Homo sapiens: one gene and its partner. The protein of the gene in region 2 interacts with the protein of the main gene of each other region in a pairwise test. Each region holds a gene or a part of one and is shown on either strand. Other genes may lie near its edges.

The links.
Region 1: the proteins of RBM25 (region 2) and SRRM4 interact in binary tests that used the Homo sapiens proteins (3 or more experiments, as listed by UniProt).

The regions. Positions count from the first base shown.
Region 1 is NC_000012.12:119,159,541-119,163,586, reverse strand, and holds the end of SRRM4 (serine/arginine repetitive matrix protein 4), read right to left. Parts: 3' UTR 536-4,046; downstream 1-535. UniProt on the Homo sapiens protein: Splicing factor specifically required for neural cell differentiation.
Region 2 is NC_000014.9:73,117,529-73,124,429, reverse strand, and holds the end of RBM25 (RNA-binding protein 25), read right to left. Parts: intron 4,718-6,901; coding exon 4,625-4,717; 3' UTR 531-4,624; downstream 1-530. UniProt on the Homo sapiens protein: RNA-binding protein that acts as a regulator of alternative pre-mRNA splicing. Involved in apoptotic cell death through the regulation of the apoptotic factor BCL2L1 isoform expression.

The DNA of each region.
Region 1 (4,046 bases), on a different chromosome or scaffold from region 2:
TTTAGTAGGGGTTTAGATGGGGTTTCACCACATTGGCCAGGCTGGTCTCAAACTCCTGACCTCAGGTAATCTGCCCACCTCAGCCTCCCAAAGTGCTGGGATTACAGGCGTGAGCCACTGTGCCTGGGTGACTTTACTTTTCTAAGACTCAGTTTCCTTATTTGTAAGAAGAAGTTCCTAATACCTACTTCATAGGGTTGGTTGTTGCTGAATACTAAGATAACACATATAAAATGCTTCCAAAAAGGTTGCCTAAGGCACTCCATAGCTGCTACTAACACACACACACACACACACACACACACATATATATATATATATATATAACATGTATATATTTGGTATATATGCTGTATATATAACCAAAAACCCAAAATACATACAGGTTTGTTTGGAAGATTAAAGATGTGAGCTGAGTAGTGTGAACATGTATGACACGCAGCAGGTGCTACTTAAGTCTTCTCTAGCTCCTTGTTTCCCTCCCCATTTTTTAATTCTGAGTACCCCATATAAACAGAGAACACTGAGCCATATATGAGAACACCATACCATGGGAACTTTAATTAGAACAGAGACATGTTTCGTACAGGCTGAAAAACCAGAAACCCCGGGAAGGTTATGCTTAGCTTTGGAGACCAGAAATCAAGCTAGCCATGGCTGCTGTGTCACTGGGCAGAGGACAGGGTCCCAGGATGCTGGAGGACACAGCAGCTTCTTTCCATCTGATGTGAATGCTCCAGGCAGAGGCTGTCTGGTCAGGCTGAGCTGGGCTCATGGTGGGTCCTCGGGTTGGGAATTTTCCAGAGGAGATTCGCAGCCTCCAATGCAGAGAAATGGCCTTGGGGTGCACCACGTCCCCTTGGCCAATGTGGTGGATTATGCTAGGTCCTTGGCCAATCATTGCTTGAGGAAATAGCTAAGAATTGGGAGAAAAAAAAATACAGTGCAGAGAGAAGTTCTTATAGCACAGGACCCCGGAGAAAAAGCTACCAAGGGAATGTTGGACATTGAGTCAAGCTGATCTGAGCTCAAGGGAGCTTGGGCATGTCAACTCCCCCTCCTGAGCCTCAGTTTTCTCCTCTGAAAAGTGGCAATATGACCTATGTCACTGGGTTATTTGAATGATTGTACAAAAATATAGCCTGACAATGAACAATGGTTAAATCCAGAGCAGGGCAAGGTAAGCCCATCTTGGTCTCTCCCGTGATGACTTTGGACCACGGGGCTTAGAGAGAAGTTCAAACTAAATACAGAGGGCTTTAACCCAGGATACAAGAGTTATCAAGGTGACAGCAACTTGAGGTCTCCCATATATGACTGTGGGACTCAACGACTATGACCTCATTCTGCAAATGAAGTCCAGGCCCTACTTTTTTGTTTCCTTCCTTGGTTGACACCCTTTAATCTGCAGTCAGCAGAAGACACAAGAGACAATATATCCAACAGTATGGAGTCCATAGCATCAGGGCTTGAGCCCCCATTTCCCACGTCTTGCAGATAATATATAGGACAAGCCCCATTTTACAGATGACAAGACTGAGGCTAGAGACCCATTCCATTTCATTCAGACTGATACACAGGCCAAAGAAACACATAGGAATACCATTGCAGTCTTTTTGGCTTGGCTCGTTAGAAGATGAGGCATAGCTTTCCTTGGCCAGAAAAAAAAAAGAGTTTACAATTTTTCTTTATTTTTTTTTTCAAGGAGTTGTGACTTTTTAATAGAAGTTGGTTCATGTGTAGGCATTTTATTCTTCCATTAATTTCCATCTAAATGAGGTTTTCCTGGAGATAACCAGTGTTTTAGTTCCATTTGAGTCTAATTTGTGTGACTGAAGCCTCCATTTCTGCCAATTTCAATTTGCTTGGTGATTCTAGCACTCCTTACCTGGGCAGTAATGCCCTTGCTGCAGACAGCAGCACCTGGAGCTGGGAGATGGACCAATTCTCAATAGCAATTCAGGGAAAGAGGTGGTCCTTCTCTTTTCCCAATATTACTCAATAAATACGAAATAAATTATTAAATAAGCCATGTTCTGATGGGGGTCCCCCATCATGGTATTTACAATGCAAAACAACAGCCATCAAAAGAACTAAAAAAACACACACAGAAACTTTTACTCCAAAAACAGCAACCACAGATAGAAGAGAGATGACATTTCTGTCAGTATCATTGGCTCACTGGTGCAGAAGTGAGAAGAACGAGACTTCAATAAAGCATTGCTCAATGACATTGAATCTAGCATAAGTTTCTCAGCTGGACTCGGCTGGCCAGTGCGGGAGGAGGCATGTTTGGAGGAATCCTGTTTTTTGACTTCGTTTTACTGAGACAAAATTTTCTGTTCAGCTAAAGGGGAAAGTGGGGCAAGACACATGCGCATGAGACCATTTTGAACATTTGTGAAAAAGAAGAGGGGAAAAGAAAACAGCAGAAGAAAAGATGAAAGTTGGACTGGAGAAGGAAAACAATGTGCTTTCTTTGCCTTTGAGAGCACCCTGAATTTTGGCCTCTCCAAGCAGACCCTTTTGCAAAAGAGGATGGGTCTGAGCAAATGAAGTGATGCGGTTCTCTGAGACTGAGACCTTTGTTCTAACATCTTAATTTTATTCTGCTTCTGAAAGATCAGCTGTCCTTCAAAGAAGGGAAGGAATGCAGATAGGAATATGATCAAACCTCAGTGAACCAGAATGTTACTAATAGGGGGCTTTGAGTTACTTAGCCTTGCCTAATTAACTGAAGGGAGATCAAATCTTGCTTTTCGTTTTTACTTTCATGATGGACAACCTCCTAAAAATGTTTGAGGCTCTTTTCCTTTTCCCTCTGAGTCTCAGTGAAGCTCCCTCTGTCTTTGGTGACACTCTCAGGCCTCAGGCCAACATTTTGAATTTTTATCTCACAAATCCCTCCACTTAACAGAGGTCGAACTTTGCCCTAGGGAAAGGGAGCAATGTATTCAGTTTCTGTCATCCAGTGCACTTCCATAGCGGGAAGGTCAAAGGCTTGGGATGCATGGCGCTTGACCTCAAGCCACATCTCCCTCCCATTTTGGATGTTGGTTTTTGAGATAAATCCTCACGACGAGCAGCATCCTGGTGATCTGTCATATTCCTTGGAAGCAGAAGGTAATGAGGGTGAAATGGGCGTAGGAACAGCGATACTGGGAATGGGAGGTTCTGGTTAATCAGGGTTACCAGTGCCTCAACAAGCACATTGTTTTTGGATAGAAAAAAAGGAAATGTAAAAGAAAGTAGAGAAATACACTGAGAGAGAGAGAGAGAGAGAGAGAGAGAGAGAGACAGAGAGAGAGACAGAGAGAGAGACAGAGAGAGAGAGAGGCAGAGATTTCCCCGAAGCAGGCATTTAAGCAGCCTTCTTGTAAACTTCACCCAGGAAAGGGGCACTCCCTTGCTTTGGGTTAGGGCTGGATAGTCACATTGCCAGGGAAACAACCAGGGATGTTGCAAAAGTCTCACCAAACCCAAAGCTGGACCAGACAAGCTGGCAATTGCAAGGCAGTGGACAGTGACTTTGGAAAGGGCAAGAGCTGTCTCCGGCCAGCAGCCAGAAGACACTGCCAGTTGGTCAGATAAGCAGGACTGATGACCTTTGGATCCTGGGCCCTTCCAGGATGGGTTTGGAAATGACCTTCTTGGTGGGGTCCTGTGGAACATCTGGCTGCTCCTTCCACCTTTTTTTTTTTTTTCCTAATTTCAGAAATAGCTTTGTGCTTTCCCCTGATGAAACAGCAAGAGATCATAGATAAAAGCTTTTGCTTTTGGCTTGGTGGTTCTCAAGCAAGATGGCTGATGCCTCTTCCCAAGGTAGCCTTCAGATCTCAGGGGACAGAGAGAAATTAGGTACTGTGGAGTGGAAGCATGTGTAACATACATGAAACCAACTAGGTGTGCTCAGAGAAGCTAGGGAGTGATCCTGCTATGTGCCTTGGAGTGAGGGTGAGATCAAGGTGCATCTTCCCTCAGTCAGCTCAATTCCTGCCTCCATTCTCATGGTGTGAGCACCTTGTCAACCCCAAGTGCAATTCCAG
Region 2 (6,901 bases):
TGCCACTGCACTCCAGCGTGGGTGACAGAGGCAGACCCTATCTCAAACAAACAAACAGAAAGATTTCACGTGAATGCATGTAAAACTACTTGTCATTAGTGGTTATTTAATAGTGCAATGCTAGACCATGAATTAGAACCCCATATATACTCCTCTAGATAAACCACCTGCAGGGACTACTGACATAATTACAATGGGCAAAACAGACTAGGTGACCTCTAAAGCCCCTTCCACATATTACTACTTCTACTGAGAATCTTCCTATTTCCCATTTCCTCTCAGCTTATCACATTTGATAATTCACATAGTATTTTGTATTTATGTCTAATGATGTTCCTGAACTCGTGTAATTTTTTTTGCCACCATTAGATGATCAGCTAACAGAAATACATGTATTTTTTTGAGATGGAGTTTTGCTCTTGTTGCTCACGCTGGAGTGCAGTGGCGCAATCTCGGCTCTCTGCAACCTCCACCTCCTGGGTTCAAGATGCTGTCTCAAAAAAAAAAAAAAAAGTAGACAGACTCAGGAGTGTCATTTAATTCAAACAACATGGCTTGAAAAGAATTTTTATTTTTGTTTCTAGAAATTATCTTCTTTACCTGGGTATTTTAGACTGCCATTCTTTAATTTCGCCTTCATGACTCAAGTAATGAAATGCAAAGATTCTGTCAATTAAAAATGTAAGCATTCAAATGCAAATAAATTAACATAAATATTTCAGTATTTTACCATAATCACATTACAAAAAATCTATCAGTTTATCAAAAAGTGTAAGTTCACTTCGCTCTATAGTATGATTGTTATATTAGTAGCTCCTGGGTTTGGTATGTATCTCCCTGTTTTCTTCTTGACAGCTAGACTGTTTCTTTGCCTGCTTGGGATTCCTTCTCATACCCTTTTATCTCCAGTGACATTCACAAATCAATCCCTCATCATCTTTTGTTGAGCAAAACTATTTCTCAATTTCATACTTAACAGAAGACTGAAATACAACCCAGAGAAGTTTGTAATCAATTTGACATAAAACCTCTCAGCAGTCTTTTGGGTATAAATTGGGGATATCATAAAACCTGTTAAAAAGAGTTGGGAAAATAAGCCTCATCTAAACATTGTATACCTGCTTACACTTATTTGCATTAAATTTATTCCATTAAAAAGGAGAAAAAAAGATAGTGTCTAGTTCAAATTGGCTCTCAAGCTAAATGTTTTCTCAGTTTTTCTACTATATCTAGTATTCATGGCAGATTAATACCTGAAACAGCACGCTTCACAAAATAATCATTAGCTTACACTTACATAGTTTACAGGGAAATGCCATAATAAGATTCAGAATAAGTTACAACATAAAGTTATCTACAGAAAAAATTTTCAGGGCTGGATGGAAAAAAAGCCTAGAATATTAGGGCTTTCTCAGACATAATTTTGCAAGATTACATTACGTTCATGAGTTACGTGTATTTGCCTCAAAAAATGTTTTTCTCTTTAAAATCTACTTAAAGGAAAATTCAGCTGCATTTATGTAGTCTGTTAGGATAAAATAATACTGAATAGACACCTTAAAGTGCTAATCAAAATGTAGTCTTGGATCAGTTGGCAATGACATTAGCTGGGAGCTGTCCAGAAATGCAAAGCCTGCGGCGCCACCCCAGCGCTGCTACTTCAGTGTCTCTATTTCTACAAGCACTCCTCAGATGATTTGGGGTCACATTAAAGTTTAAGAAAAACAACTTCAAACTTACCTTTCTTCCTTGTGAACAGATGTACATACTTTATTTTTAGGGACAAATAAAGAAAAGTAGTATTCTACTACTTTTTTGCCAGATCAAGACTGGTTCTTAAGATGTTCACGCTTTGGCCAGGCAAGGTGGCTCACGCCTGTAATACCAGCACTTTGGGAGGCTGAGGCGGGTGGATCACCTGAGGTCAGGAGTTTGAGACCAGCCTGGCCAACAAGGTGAAATCCTGTCTCTACTAAAAATACAAAAAATTAGCCAGGTGTCGTGGTGGGCACCTGTAATCCCAGCTACTCAGAAAACTGAAGCAGAATATCTCCAGAACCCGGGAGGCGGAAGTTGAAGTGAGCTGAGCTCGCGCCATTGCACTCCATCCTGGGCGACAAAAGCACAACTTCCTCTCAAAAAAAAAAAAACCCCAAAAAAACAACAAAAAAAGACTTTCATGCTCTTTATATAACAACTTGAAATGGCAAAATGAATTCATACTGTATAAGGTTTTCAAACTAAAATTAATTTATGAGATTATGGTAAAATTAACCCACAAAGTTCAAGCAACTTAATAGAAATTTCTTATGTGTATTTTCAGACACTAGAATATGCCTGTTTAATGTCTAATTCTTTATATATACAATTCTAAAAATCAACCAACTCTGACAATCTAAAGCCTTTTACTGAAGCTTGGTTACAAAACATGATTTAAACTGGCATTAAGCGATTAACAGTTTCTACCACATTTACTGTAACAATTTTCACTCTGCTGCAGAAACTTTAATATATGAACTTGCACAAATTCATATATTTAGTTGAGGTCCTGTCACAAACCTCACTGGAGATGTTATGCAGTACAGAGTACATCTCCCCAAAGGTTTCAGATTACGACATCTCCCTTGTTTTTAGAGTGGCCCTTTAAGATAAGTACAGTTGACAGAGCAGGAGAAGAAACGAAGCAAAGGAAATCAAATCTACCTGAATAAACCTTCATGTTAATAGTGGCTAAATAAAAACAACACAATATGATGCTTAAGAACAGTGCAGTATGTTAAGAAAAGACAGACACAATAAACTCCTCGAACAAGGTCTTAGGCTGGGGGTGTGTCTAAGAAAAGACTGAAAAATTAACGAAAATGGCAAGGGGCATCTTTTCTGAAATTTTCCGTTGAGAAACCAGAATTTAAAATAAAAGAGACATTTCCATAGATGTATAGTAGATTCATCCAAAATAATGTAAATGGCTTCCTTGACCTTTAGATACCAATAGTCATAAAAATCAAGTCCATAAAAAGTTCAGCCCATATTTTTAACTTTTCTAGTATGCACCACACAATTACAACATGATGCCATTTATTTACATGATTCTGAAAGAATATGAGTCCCCAGGATCAAATATATACATTTTTAATATTTGAAATATTTACATAATGGAACCACATCAGGGTTCGAGGGTAAGAACAGTGTTTTCAAATGTCCTCTCCAGGTGTGTTTAAAAAAAAAAAAAATCCAGTAATCCAAAGCTCACATTATGCTTTTTCTAACAGGCCAATCTTTACCTTTCTTTTAAATAAGTACTCAGACATGGGAACAGTTGCATCTAATTTGTGTGAAAAGCTGTTTAAAACTTCTTACGTTTTCAGGTAATTTTACTCCCTGGTGAAATTCTGATCTACAACGAAGAAAGCCCCAGGAATTTCTCTAAGCACATCATCAGTACATTTTTAAACACTAATGAGCCAAGGTAAAACAAGATATAAACCTTCTACAAGACAAAAATGAAAACAAATAGTTAGTGGTTGGTAACTGCCTTGAATGATTTACCTTTATCCTTAAATAACATGTAAACTTACAAATTGCCGAGCAGAATACCTATCATGTTTGTAAAACTCTCACTGTCTGTCAATTTGCCTAATTTTATTTCATTTTTTTGTTTTGTTTTAAAGGGGGTTTTCACTTACACTTTTTGGTATGATGAATTTTTTGTTAAATAAACAGATACAATAGAATTAAACTAAGGACCAATTAGTGCAAAAATGCATTAAATACAGCTCTCCAGGATTTTTAGGATATGCCTCATTTCTGAGCAATAAAATTAAAAGGAAAAATCACTATGATCCACATTCCTTTAAAAGAGAAGCTGAAGCAGCCATCTTATTAATAAGAAAACCCCATCCAGTTAGCAAACCACATTGCTCACGACACGAGAACACCATGCTCTGGGAAACTAATAACCTAATTATAACAGACATTTCAGGTTGGAACAGTACCACTTTTCCTTTACAATTCTATTCTTTAGTTGGGAAATGTTTTAAGGACCCCACCAAAGCAAATTAGGGAAAAGAAAGACTTTTACACATACATTCACAAACACATTCATACAGAAATACAGTAGGAATGGATTGTCTGCTAATTTTTGCATTCCAATTTTAAACTCCATGCCTTCACAAGGGCTTGCCATTTCTGATCAAAAGAGAGTGGGGGTGGTAATAGTTTATGACTGGTGTTTTCAATTAAAATTGTTCATGTTGGTTCCTATACAGTACATTTCAATATTAAGTGCAATTCTGCAAAATAATTGGGGAGTCGTTTTAATATTTACAAGAAACAAATCAGCAGAACAAGATTATATCAGATAGGCTGTGTACAGTAGCTGCGGCTTATAAAACATACCAGTAATTTGTACCTGGTGAGTATAAAGAGAACCAAGGATTCAGATGACTTTACAACCAAGGGAGTACACAGGGCAACAACAAATTAGAGGACCAAAAAATTCACATTTTCTACAAAAAAAAAAAATTACAGATCTCACAATGTCTTCAAAGACAAAGAAAAATTCAAAGTCCTTAAAAGGGTGGCAAAGAAGAAATCTGAAATGGAACTCTAAATATAAAAAGTTTTACTTCACAAGACCAATTTTCTTGGCTTCTGTTTCATATATCAATAATCTCCACATTTTGACTATAAAAACTTCTGCTTCTTCATCAAGTACCTAAAGAGGAAACAAAACAGCAACACATGTAAGAGAAGCAATCATCAACATCTGCCAAAAACAGTGGCCAGTATAAAAAAGTTTTTCATCCACTGACAATAAGCACTTATTACTTAAATGCTAGTTAAGATTTTAAGGTTGTTTTAGTGGCCGGGTGTGGTGGCTCACGCCTGTAATCCCAGCATTTTGGGAGGCCGAAGCGAGCGGATCACAAGGTCAGGAGATCAAGACCATCCTGACTAACATGGTGAAACCCCATCTCTACTAAAAATACAAAAAACTAGCTGGGCATGGCAGCGTGCGCCTGTATTCCCAGCTGCTGGGGAGGCTGAGGCAGGAGAATGACGTGAACCCAGGAGGCGGAGCTTGCCAAGATCGCGCCACTGCACTCCAGCCTGAGCAACAGAGCAAGACTCCATCTCAAAAAAGAAAAACAAAAAAAACAAAAAAGTTTTAAGGTTGTTTTGAGGGGATACATGAGATTCTGTATTGTTATTACATAGTTGTATATTTAGTTCTTCTTAAATTACTACGTTCTTTATAATACGTATTTGTTTTCCTTAGGAAGTAGTTTTGCTTTCAGTAAAATGACTTAAAGAAAATTTGTCCAGTGTGAGAAATGTATTATTAATAAATAGTAAATGGACCGGGCACAGTGGCTCACACCTATAATCCCAGCACTTTGGGAGGCTGAGGCAGGTGGATCACCAGAGGTCAAGAGTTCAAGACCAGCCTGGCCAACATGACGAAACCCCATCTCTACTAAAAATACAAAAATTAGCTGGGCATGGTGGCCGGCACCTGTAATCCCAGCTACTCGGGAGGCTGAGGTAGGAGAATCGCTTGAACCTGGGAGGCGGAGGTTGCAGTGAGCCAAGATCATGCCACTGCACTCCAGCCTGGTCAACAAGAGCAAAACTCCGTCTCTAAATAAATAAATAAATAGTAAATGTAAATTAACAACGACAACAAAAAAAAATCATTCAAAATTCCATGGCTTACTAAACACAAAGAGTACCATATTTTTGTGATCCACCTTTTATTCTTTTATTTTACCTTTACAGATACTGCAATTATACATGTCTGACAAAACTACTTCCCAAGGAAACCATACGCTTTTCATAAAGAACACAGTAATTTAAGAAGAACTAAATAATATACAATTACATAATAACAATACAGAATTTCATTTATCTCCAAAAACACAACCTCACAAACTTTTTTTTTTTTTTTCTGGAGACAGGATCTCTCTTGTCACCCAGCCTGGAGTACAGTGGCATGATCATGGTGCACTACAGCCTTGACCTCCCAGGCTCAAGTGATACTCCCACATCAGCCTCACCAGTAGCTAGGACTACAGGTGTGCACCACTACTCCTGGCTACATTTTTGTGCTTTTTAGTAGAGACAGGGTCTCACTATGTTGCCCAGGCTGGTCTCAAACTCCTGGGCTCAAGCAATCTGCGCACCTTGGCCTTCCAAAGTGCTGGGATTACAGGTTTGAGCTGCTGTGCACAGCCCAACCGTACCATCTTAACTAGCATTTATTGTGTATGTGACACTAAAGTGAACATTAAATGAGAATATAAGTATTTAGTACAGTGTCCAGAATACAGTAAACACAATAAGCAAATACAATCATCACGGGGCACACATGACTACTGAGTAACAAGTCTTCTTCCAGTGGTGGATGAGGAAATTGTCTTCCTCTCTACTTATGAGTTATAGGGTCCTTGTGTCCCCATCACTATTCCTGCCATCATCCCATACACACATCTGCCCCTCTACATTATGGCTGCTATGAGGTGAAATGGCCTACTCTGCTCCCTTCTGAAGGGGGCAGCTATGACTGTGCTCCAGAAATGTGGTCTAGTGTTGCCAGGTCTTCATAGAGGAAGTTTGGGGTAGGAATTTAGAGTACTCAATCTCTAGTCAGACTACATTGGTTCAAATTCTCTAGTCAGGCTACATAGGTTCAAATTGCACTGCTGCCTCTTACTAGCGATAGGTCCTTGGTTGGGTTACTTAACCTGAGCCTCAGTTCCCTCACCTCTAAAGTGGAGGCGATGTAGCTACACACCATAGCAGTAGGTACTAAGTGGGAATTAAAAGAGTTGGTATGTAGTTAAGTGCTCTGACAACTGACTGGTATATAACAAGTGCTTAATAAATACCTGGGAAGAGA